Linked DNA regions of Homo sapiens: region 1 is linked to region 2. Evidence: fine-mapped expression QTL. A gene starts in region 2. The other region holds a variant in brackets. All regions are shown on one strand. Distances are from middle to middle. Region 1 overlaps FANCA (FA complementation group A). Region 2 holds the start of ZNF276 (zinc finger protein 276).

What was found. PIP is the estimated chance that this variant, and not a neighbour inherited with it, causes the effect.
Region 1: its variant is the best candidate, but not a certain one, in a credible set for the expression of ZNF276 in visceral fat (GTEx, PIP 0.61).

Annotation. Positions count from the first base shown.
Region 1 is chr16:89,743,691-89,748,690 of GRCh38, forward strand. FANCA (FA complementation group A) reads right to left here. Exons shown (of 43, transcript NM_000135.4): 33 at 4,969-5,000; 34 at 3,141-3,200; 35 at 2,894-2,998; 36 at 1,269-1,381. Among named protein-coding and RNA genes, the nearest start is that of ZNF276, 25 kb to the left of the region's middle. RefSeq lists enhancers at 445-614, 3,011-3,180. The variant CTG/C (reference allele first, on the strand shown) is at 2,753.
Region 2 is chr16:89,718,568-89,724,075 of GRCh38, forward strand. It overlaps ZNF276 (zinc finger protein 276), which reads left to right and starts at 2,970. Exons shown (of 11, transcript NM_001113525.2): 1 at 2,970-3,278; 2 at 3,964-4,267; 3 at 4,570-4,616; 4 at 4,693-5,142. The coding sequence starts at 3,074. VPS9D1 (VPS9 domain containing 1) reads right to left here and starts at 2,331. Exons shown (of 15, transcript NM_004913.3): 1 at 2,196-2,331; 2 at 460-535. The coding sequence starts at 2,294. RefSeq lists an enhancer at 543-712, a cis regulatory region at 628 and silencers at 1,938-3,057, 3,138-3,597.

The DNA of each region.
Region 1 (5,000 bases), 25 kb after region 2:
CTCACGCCTGTAATCCCAGCTACTCAGGAGACTGAGGCAGGAGGATCGCTTGAACCTGGGAGGCGGAGGTCATGGTGAGCCGAGATCGTGCCATCTCACTCTAGGGTGGGTGACAAGAGTGAAACTCTGTCTCAAACAAAACAAAACAAAAAACAAAACTTCAGACAATCTGATCTGTGTTTGTAGAATTAGAACTGGAGGTGTGACCTGCTTTCTCCTTTTTTGAGATGGAGTTTCTCTCTCATTGCCCATGCTGGACTACAATGGCATGATCTCGGCTCACTGCAACCTCCACCTCCTGGGTTCAAGCAATTCTCCTGCCTCAGCCTCCTGAGTAGCTGGGACTACAGGCGCACACTATCACACCCAGCTCATTTCTGTATTTTCAGTAGAGATTGTTTCACATGTTGGCCAGGCTGGTCTCAAACTCCTGACCTCAGGTGATCCACCTGCCTTGGCCTCCCAAAGTGCTGGGATTACAGGTGTGCGCCACCGCGCCGGGGCCCTCTTCTCTTCTTTCAGCAGACGGCGAGCAGCCAAACCCTGAGGGGACCCGGTGTGGCATCAGTGATTCAAAACTAGTCACAAAGTAAGGTGTTCTCCAAGGAGGCAGGATGGGTACTAGCAGTGCCCTCTGACGACCCCTTAAGAACACGGCACCCACATTCAGCAGGTGGAGTGGCTGTCAGCTCTGTGGTCCTCAGAAGGGTGTGTGAGCCTGGATTGCGCCAGGAGCTTGATGGTTTGCAAGGACCCGTGAATATCTGACTGGGGTCGACAGGTCAGGGTAGGCTGAGAATCTGCATCCCTGAGGTCCCCATGACACTGACCCTACCAGCACGCGGTGCACTCTAGGAGCCCACATTAGATTTAAGAGGAAGGGGAGCAGGTGCAAAGGAATCACTCGAGCTCCTCACTCAGACGGGAGCCTGGGAGAGGCCGTTCCTCACTCAGACGAGACACTGGCAGAGGCTGTTTTTTTTTTTGTTTTTTTTCTGGACAGAGTCTTGCTCTATTGGCCGTTGGAGTGATCTCGGCTCACTGGAAACTCCACCTCCTGGGTTCAACTGATTCTCCTGCCTCGGCCTCCCCAGTAGTTGGGATTACAGGCGCCCACCACCACGAGAACTCGGTTCTTTTCTCCCTGCTCACACGAGAGGCTGCCCACACCGCTTCTCTCAAGCAAGCCAGGGTGTTTAGGAGATGACCTTGAGCAGGTCCCGAAGTGCATCTGGGCGGGCACACCCCATCTCACCACCCACACGTACTCGCTGGCAAACTGCCGGCCTTCTTGTAGCTTCTGCAGTTCCCGGGGCAGCGGGCTCTGGCAGTGTCTCCTCCACCGGCAGAGCAGCACAGGCTCCAGGCTCGGCCACCACACCTATGGAGAGAGCACCAGCACACAGATGAGGGTGGCTGAGATGGACACACCTCCGCTGCCCCAGCCATGACAAGCCCCCAGTGCTCCTACAGGCCACTACAGGCCCACACTCGCCCTGCGCTCTGGAACTCCAAAGCCAGTATTTTTTACGTCAATTAAGGCTCAAAGCAGTTCCATGAGGCATTTATTACCCACACTCATGGAAGACGTGGAATTTGGAGAAGGAAGAGCCTGGCCTAACGCAACAGTGAAGGGACCACACTCCCCTGAGCTGGGAACGAAACAGTGAAGGGACCACAGTCCCCTGAGCTGGGAATGAAACAGTGAAGGGACCACACTCCTCTGAGCTGGGAACAAAACAGTGAAGGGACCACACTCCTCTGAGCTGGGAACAAAACAGTGAAGGGACCACACTCCTCTGAGCTGGGAACGAAACAGTGAAGGGACCACACTGCCCTGAGCTGGGAACGAAACAGTGAAGGGACCACACTCCTCTGAGCTGGGAACAAAACAGTGAAGGGACCACACTGCCCTGAGCTGGGAACGAAACAGTGAAGGGACCACACTCCTCTGAGCTGGGAACAAAACAGTGAAGGGACCACACTGCCCTGAGCTGGGAACAAAACAGTGAAGGGACCACACTCCTCTGAGCTGGGAACAAAACAGTGAAGGGACCACACTGCCCTGAGCTGGGAACGAAACAGTGAAGGGACCACACTCCTCTGAGCTGGGAACGAAACAGTGAAGAGACCACACTGCCCTGAGCTGGGAATGCCTGGTCCTTGGATGCCCTCAGCTGAGAGGTGGCGTTCTAAACACCGAAGAGTTCATTTCTCACGAATTCCACCAACTGAGCTACAACTCGGTGCAAATGCAGCCTGCTTGGGGAGCTCCCTGGGGAACATGCCGTGCTGCGGAGAAAAAGGCCCTCCTGTCCCTGATGACCGAGAAGGAAGGGCGACAGCTGTGGTCTTCAGGACTAAGTGAGCCGCCAGGGAAGTGAGGGAAATGCTGCCCTCCTCCCACTCTCGGGACCCTGGGCTGCTAGGGGAGCCTGCTGAGCTCTGGCGGGAGCTGAGGTGAAGTCTCTGCTCCGAAGTCCCAAGAAAGCATAGTCAGGCGCAAGTGGGCCACAGTCATGCTCTCGTGACGGGGCACAGGCAGCCACCGTACAGCCTCCAGCCAGTGCACAACCCAAGACCGTGAACAAACAAGCCCTGCACCCCTGTGGACATGAAGGTGCCCGTGGGGTCTGAGTGGGGTCCACAGGGGAGAAGTCCTGCGGGTGCCATGGTGACGGCGGTGGGGGCAGGGACGGTTCTGGGAACTCAGGATGTGCGGCCCTCATCTGCTATGAGCTGGCATCTTTAA[CTG/C]TGGCTTCCATGTCTCCTGATGCATTTTCCCTGAGATGGTAACACCCGTGATGGAGACGTGCTGCAGAGATGCCAGAGGCAGCTGTGGAGTCTCCCACTCATCCCCAAAACAAAACACCAAACAAGACAGCTGACCCACCAGAGCAGAGGTCAAAATTAAGGGGCATTTCGTCTGGCACTTGGCCAGTATGAAGTCGACCATCAGGGAGGGGTCTCTGCTCCGCAGACAGGCGTTCAGGAGGCCCTGCAGGAGAGAACGCAGCAGGAGGTCAGCGGTTTGTGAGGACCCACAACTAGTAGAGTGAAGGAACTCACAGGAAGCTGACAGGAGGATCCACCCACGGCGTTCTGAGAAGGCCACGAGAGGGGCTGAGGGAGCATCTCACCCTGAAGAAGTGGGCAGTGATGTCCTGTGTCAGGGCACCTCCGTGGGAGCAGAAGTTTCTCTGCAAAAGAGTTCAAGGCAGGTAAGAAAAGCCCACAGGAAGAGAGGCGAGACCAACATGCAGAGTGGCTGCTGTGGATTCAGTTTTGAGAAAAACACTCGCTAAGGCTTGGCGTGGCCACCATGGATGGTGCTCCTGGGCTGACCGGGCCTGGCGCCCTGGCTGTGCTGTCCTGAAACTTAACGGCTTCCCTGGGCGGCCAGATCCTGCAGCCCACCAGCTCTGGCCCAAACAGTCTTGTAGGCTCCAGGAAGAAGCCAGGGAGGCACAAGCAGCCGCAGGGAAGGGGACGCACCCGGAGCGTAGAACTGTGGTGAGGACGACACTAATACCAAGGGCCAACCATCCTCTGGTCCCTTCACTAACCAAGTGCTGTCTATGGTGTTTTCCTGTCTGTCGGCTGTCACGTGCCAACTGAGAGCTTTCTGAAAAACAGCCATTCATAAGAATTCAAAGGAGACCATAGTGATTTTCTGAAAGCTTTTGCTAGTCTCACGTCCTCTGCTTTCCTTGTCACATTTTGAAGTGCTGCACAAGGCCGGGCTCACACCTGTAATCCCAGCACTTTGGGAGGCCAAGGCGGGTGGATCACGAGGTCAGGAGTTCAAGACCAGACTGACCAACATGGTAAAACGTCATCTCTACTAAAAATACAAAACTTAGCCGGTCATGGCGGCAGGCACCTGTAGTCCCAGCTACTCAGGAGGCTGAGGCAGGAGAATCGCTTGAACCTGGGAGGCGGAGGTTGCAGGGTGAGCCAAGATTTCACTGCTGCACTCCAGCCTGGGCGACAGAGCAAGACTCTGTCTCAAAAAATAAATAAATAAATAAATAAATAAAAATATAAAATGCTGCACAGCTGGCATGGAACCTGAATTCCATCTCTCACATTTGTGCATCTTCAAAAACAAGAAAAAGGCCTTCGGGAGCAGAAGCTGCTCTCTGTAGAGTGGGAGGGGCTGGTATCCGTCTCCCCAGCTCTGACCAACTGGGTCCCTACGCTGCCCGTCCCCACAGCGAGTGTCACTTCTTTTTATTTGAGACAAGAGTTTCGCTCTGTCACCCAGGCTGGAGTGTAGTGGTGGGATCTTGGCTCAGTGCAACTCTGCCTCCTGGGCTCAATTACTCCTCCTGACCCAGCCTCTCAAGTAGGTGGGAGTACAGGCGTGCACCACCATACCCAGCTAATTTTTCTATTTTTTGTAGAAACAGGGTTTTGTCATGTTGCCCAGGCTGGTCTCGAACTCCTGGGCTCAAGTGATCCCCCACCTTTCCAGAGTGCTGGGATTACGGGCGTGAGCCACCGCACCCAGCCTGCTGGTTAAGATCACCCTGCAACTCACGCTGGGCAGTGTCTAAAATGGAAGATAACTGGGCTGCCTGGCAGGCAACAGCGGTAGTCAGATCACCACAAGGCTTTTTTTACACATGAAGCATGTTGAGATTAGAAATAAATGAACCGAGGTGCGTGGCACACAAAATGGTCTGTACGATTCCATGTGTCAAAATCATTAAAACTTGAGGGAAACTAAAGGAACTCAAACTTGGGAGAAGGCAACCTACAGCTGGTTTGGTGATGTGCTGGTCGCCGTCCTGGCTGTGGGTGGGGTCCTCCCTCACATGGCATTCCAGACACTGTTCCCTATTTGACTTTGAACCCTTTCCTCAGTAATTCACACGGTCAGTACACGCATGGAGGCTGCAAGAGCTGCTGTTAGCGCCACAGGCACTGACAGATCGGACGGACACGTGCACACGGGGCACCTACCATCTCAGAGTTGACCAAGTGGAAGAACTGCT
Region 2 (5,508 bases):
GTGGGCTGGTCCACCTACTACAAATGGTCAGGCTAGAAGGATACAAGAGACCCCCGCCGAAGCCTGGCACCCATCAAGGGCTAGGATGCCCACAATTTGTCCAGCATGGAGGAAGCAGCAGGGCTCAGCCATGCCTTTTTCTTTTTCTTTTCTTTTTTTTTTTTTTGAGACGGAGTTTCGCTCTTGTTCCAGGCTGGAGTACAATGGGGTGATCTCGGCTCACTGCAACCTCTGCTCCCGGGTTCAAGCAATTCTCCTGCCTCAGCCTCCCGAGTAGCTGGGACTACAGACACCCGCCACCAGGCCCAGCTGATTTTTTAGATTTTTAGTAGAGACGGGGTTTCACCATGTTAGCCAGGATGGTTTCGATCTCCTGACCTCAGGTGATAGCCCGCCTCTGCCTCCCACAGTGCTGGGATTACAGGCGTGAGCCACCGCGCCCGGCTGGCTGAGCCGTACCTTTAGTGGTTTCCACTTCTTCTAGTAACACCTGGGAGATATAGTGGATGCTCCTCAGGTATTCCGTGTATGCCTCCTGTGTCCAGGAAAGAGAAAGAGTGGGGTCAGGCCAGTGGAGGGAAGTGACTCCATTATTCCGGCCAGGTGCCCTTGTGGGATAAGCAAGGAACACCACCACCTGCTTATCTCTGAGATACACCCAGAGACATTGAGCCTGCGGTGGTTAGCTGCAGCCGGAACACGGTTTTCTGCGCAGGGCACAGGCAGCATCGCTGCTCTCCAGACTTGGAAAAGACATCAGGACCTGAGAGAGAGAGAGAGCCAGGGACGAGCTGGACCTCATTTTCTCCTCTGACTGCCTTTCTCTCCAGCACAGGAACTGATATTCTCATTCAGTGGGCCTGGGGAAGTGACCTCAGCAGTTTGCTGTCATTTTTCATTCTATGCAATGTTTCCTTCTTGTGCAACTCAAGGGTGATTCATTCAGTGGCTTAAAAAAATACTTTTCTGAGAGGATAAAGGGAGTGATACTGGAAGTTTTCAAATCACTTCCCGGTTTAAGTTCCGAGAAATCCCTTTCCCAGAACCTGCGAGTTACGTATTTCCAGTGCACACAGGAGCCTAGAACTGTTACCTTTCAAGGCTGTGTGACCCCTCTGACAAGGCACAGGTCATTGGAACCACAGAATGGTGGTTTGTTTTGTTTTGTTGAGACAGAGTCTCACTCTGTCGCCCAGGCTGGAGTGCAGTGGCAGGATCTCGAGTCACTGCAACCTCCGCCTCCTGGGTTCAAGTGATTCTCATCCCTCAGCCTCCCAAGGAGCTAGGATTACAGGTGTGCACCGCCACACCCAGCTAATTTTTGTATTTTTAGTAGAGACGGGGTTTCACCACGTTGGCCAGGCTGGTCTCAAACTCCTCACCTCAGGTGATCCACCGCCTGGGCCTCCCAAAGTGTCAGGATTACAGGCGTGAACCACAGCGCCCAGCAATATGCTATGTTTTTTTGTTTTATCCCTAGCTGTTAAGTTTCCTATCTTTAAGTCTATGCCTCAGAGAGAAAGACGAAATATAATCCAGGCAGGATTTCTGACTTGCGGGGGCACCTGCTGCCCTAAAAACCAACTTGGGGAAAGCAGCAGATTCAGGAACGAGGCTTCTCCTAGGCACAGGCAGGCTCCTTCCCTCCTTGGGCAGCCGGGTGTGGCTGGGCCAGCTTCTCTACCTGGTCGCCAACCTTAGATTCGGCCCCATCTCAGGAACGGGCCACACCCCTCCGGCCTGCTTTTCCTTCCTAAGACGACTGCAAACAGCATCACAAATGAGCAGGTATGTGGCCTTCTCTGCATGCCGTCCCCTGTGGCAACCGGATTAAATCTACCATCTCTGCCCAGAAAAATGCACGAACGCACGGACCTGCCCGTCACTCGGATTTTGGAAGGTGGCCTGGCGGACCCTCCTGCTACATCTCCTCTACAGGTGGAGCCCAGGCTGTGATGCACCGGCTCAGCGAGCGGAGTGGAAAGCCAAGGTCCGCAGGATCTGAGCTGTCCAAGGTCACTGCACGCCCGGCTGCGCCCCGCCCCCGTCCTCGCCCGGGAACCGCGGCCCGGGATCCCGGCTGGCGCCCGCTCCCAAGTCTCCAGCCCGAGCCGGCCCCGTCCTCGCCCTCCCCGGGCGGGGGTCCCTCCAGGGGCCACCCTCAGCGGCCAAGCCCCGCCCCCGCCCCGCCTCACCCGGGGCCGGTTGCCGGTGTCCAGCTCGATGGCCCCGTTGGCAAGCTTCATGGCGCTCTGCAGCGGCTTCACCGTGCCGTCCCCGGCCGCAGCGGCCATGGCGCCGAGCGGGGGAGGCGGCGGCGGTAGCCGAGGGGCTGGACGGGCGACCGGAGGCCCGGAACGCAGCCGGCGCTGGTGCTGGAGCCGCCCGAGCAGCGGACCGCAGGAAGGGACGCGGCCGCACTTCCGGCGACGGGCCCCCTCCGCGCGTACTGCGGGCCCCACGGGTGTTAGTGGCGGGGGCGGCAGAGTCCGGGTGGGTTGTCGCGACGGAGCCGGGCCTCTTCGCCGTCTTGAGACGGGGCTGGCGAGAAGGGCCCCTCACGGAGTTGCCATGGGCGTCTAACCGCGGCAGCCAGGCCCCTCTCTACGTGAGACCCCGGCCCCCCTCCCCTTTCTGCAGCCCGCCCGCCACCTGCGCGCCGCGTGGCCTCCGCCGGCGCCTGCCCGCCCCGCGCCTCCGTCTCCCACGGTAAGAGGCGGTGAGGGCCGCGTCGCCTCTCCCTGGAGGACTCGTCGTGAGGTGTCGGCGAGCCCCTCCGCCCACCGCCCCGCCCCAGGCCAGCGCTCCATTGGCGACAGAGGCGGGCACGGCCGCCCTCGGGCCCGAGAGGGGAGCGGTACGAGCGGGGGCGCTGGCACCGCGGGTGGAACCTCGGCCGGCGGGGTCCCGCCCCTGGCCCCTGGCCCGCCCCGCCCGCCTCGCTTTGCTTCTCGCTCCGCCCCTCCCCCGCCCCGCCTCGCTTCCAGCGCGCCGAGCGGAGCCTAACGCCGGGTCCTCTAGGAACCTCGGGCCGGGCAGCACCCGCGGGATTCTGCTGGCGTCCTCCGCTGCCATGAAGCGGGACCGGCTGGGCCGCTTCCTGTCTCCTGGGTCGTCCCGACAGTGCGGGGCCTCGGACGGCGGCGGCGGCGTCAGCCGGACTCGGGGCCGCCCTTCCCTTAGCGGTGGGCCGAGGGTGGACGGGGCGACGGCGCGGCGCGCCTGGGGCCCGGTGGGGTCCTGCGGGGACGCGGGCGAGGACGGCGCGGACGAGGCAGGTGGGTCCGCGGCCCGGGCGTGGCGGGTTGGGGTCGCGGCAGGGGTTGCTCGTGGGAGGAGCCGCACTGACGCCCGGAAGCCGGCGCGGCCTCTCCTCCACCCGGCCAAGGGCGTAGCGGACTCGGGGCTGCGTCGGGATAGGCGCTGGGCGGCCGGCTCGGTTTTCCTCGCGCTCCGTGACGCCGGCGTCGCCGGCCCGGCCTCCCCGGCCGCGGGCTCGGCCAGAAGGGACCCGGCGTGAGGAGCGCTGTCACCGCGGGCAGGTCGCCCTGGGGTGCCCGCGCGTGGGAATCGCCCTCCCCTGCTTCGTGCCCTCGCGGAGCCGGAAAGGAGGCGGCACCTGCAATTGGCAGACAGGAAACCGCGGCGTTTCCTGGAGGGCGCAGCGCCTGCCCCGGGTCTCGCGGTCGCTGGGAGGAGGGTGCAGTTCCAGGTTTCACTCTTGAAGTTGCTTCGCTGGAGAGGCCTTAGAGGCCTTTGAAATTTGAAAGATTTCTTGGACCAGCGGCCACATCCCCCACAGGGCGGCTTGTCCCGCCGAGAGCCGCGCGCCCGAGCCGCTTGCTGTGTCCGGGAGCCGCGCGAAGGGCGCTGCAGGCGCTGCCCTCGGACCTGGAGTCCGGGACGCCCTGTGCTCAGGAGCCTCCTTTGCCAGCTGCTAACACTTCCTGCCGCTCTGTGCAGGAGCAGGCCGGGCTCTCGCCATGGGTCACTGTCGCCTCTGCCACGGGAAGTTTTCCTCGAGAAGCCTGCGCAGCATCTCCGAGAGGGCGCCTGGAGCGAGCATGGAGAGGCCATCCGCAGAGGAGCGCGTGCTCGTACGGGACTTCCAGCGCCTGCTTGGTGTGGCTGTCCGCCAGGACCCCACCTTGTCTCCGTTTGTCTGCAAGAGCTGCCACGCCCAGTTCTACCAGTGCCACAGCCTTCTCAAGTCCTTCCTGCAGAGGGTCAACGCCTCCCCGGCTGGTCGCCGGAAGCCTTGTGCAAAGTACGCCCTAGTCTGTTCAGAGCACGTTCAGGCTGTCAGTACTGCAGTGTGACGGGTGTTGAGAGAGGGACAGGGCGTGCCTCCGCGGGAGCCTCTGGGTGGGGGGAATGGGCCATGCCCGGGTTCAGTGCCAACAGCCCTGGGACTGTTGTGGAGAGATGAACTGGGAGGAGCTGGGGTGAGGGAAGAGAAAGTTGCCTATGGGGACCGCTGAGGTTTGAGATCTCGAGAGGGTCCCGTACGACGAGCGCTGTGAACCTCCGCCTGCTTGTCCTGCTCATGGCCACACTGATCCTTTGCAGGGTCGGTGCCCAGCCCCCAACAGGGGCAGAGGAGGGAGCGTGTCTGGGTGAGTCCTCCCCCGGTGGAGGGTGGGCTGGGTGCCGACCAGCCGTGGATCTGACATCTCTGTTGACTCTCTGCAGTGGATCTGATCACATCCAGCCCCCAGTGCCTGCACGGCTTGGTGGGGTGGGTGCATGGACATGCGGCCAGCTGCGGGGCCCTGCCCCACCTTCAGAGGACACTGTCCTCCGAGTACTGCGGCGTCATCCAGGTCGTGTGGGGCTGCGACCAGGGCCACGACTACACCATGGATACCAGCTCCAGCTGCAAGGCCTTCTTGCTGGACAGTGCGCTGGCAGTCAAGTGGCCATGGGACAAAGAGACGGCGCCACGGCTGCCCCAGCACCGAGGGTGGAACCCTGGGGATGCCCCTCAGACCTCCCAGGGTAGAGGGACAGGGACCCCAGTTGGGGCTGAGACCAAGACCCTGCCCAGCACGGATGTGGCCCAGCCTCCTTCGGACAGCGACGCGGTGGGGCCCAGGTCGGGCTTCCCACCTCAGCCAAGCCTGCCCCTTTGCAGGGCCCCAGGTAGGAGGCACCTCTTGCTGGTGCTAGACCAGGATGTGTGCTCCTCAGTGGGGCAGGGTTTTCAGCAGAAAGTGAATGTCTCCACTGCTCTAGGTGGTGGCTGGGGTGTGGTGTGAGAAGGAGCAGAGCTTGGGGCTTCTGCCTGCGGCTGCTCACCACATCCAGAGAGCAGGGAGGGGCGGCCAGCCTGTCTCCGCCTCTTGCTCCTCTGTGAGCAGGGCTCTGTTCCAGCAGTTTCTGTGGAGACACGCTCATCAGCCGTCGAGTCTTTTTCTAAGCCTGTGCTTGGGGCTGAGGGGACTGAGGAAGAGGGAAGAATAGGGCCTTGTCTGTGGATGTGGGAGAAAAGAATGGCCGTTGCCTCTG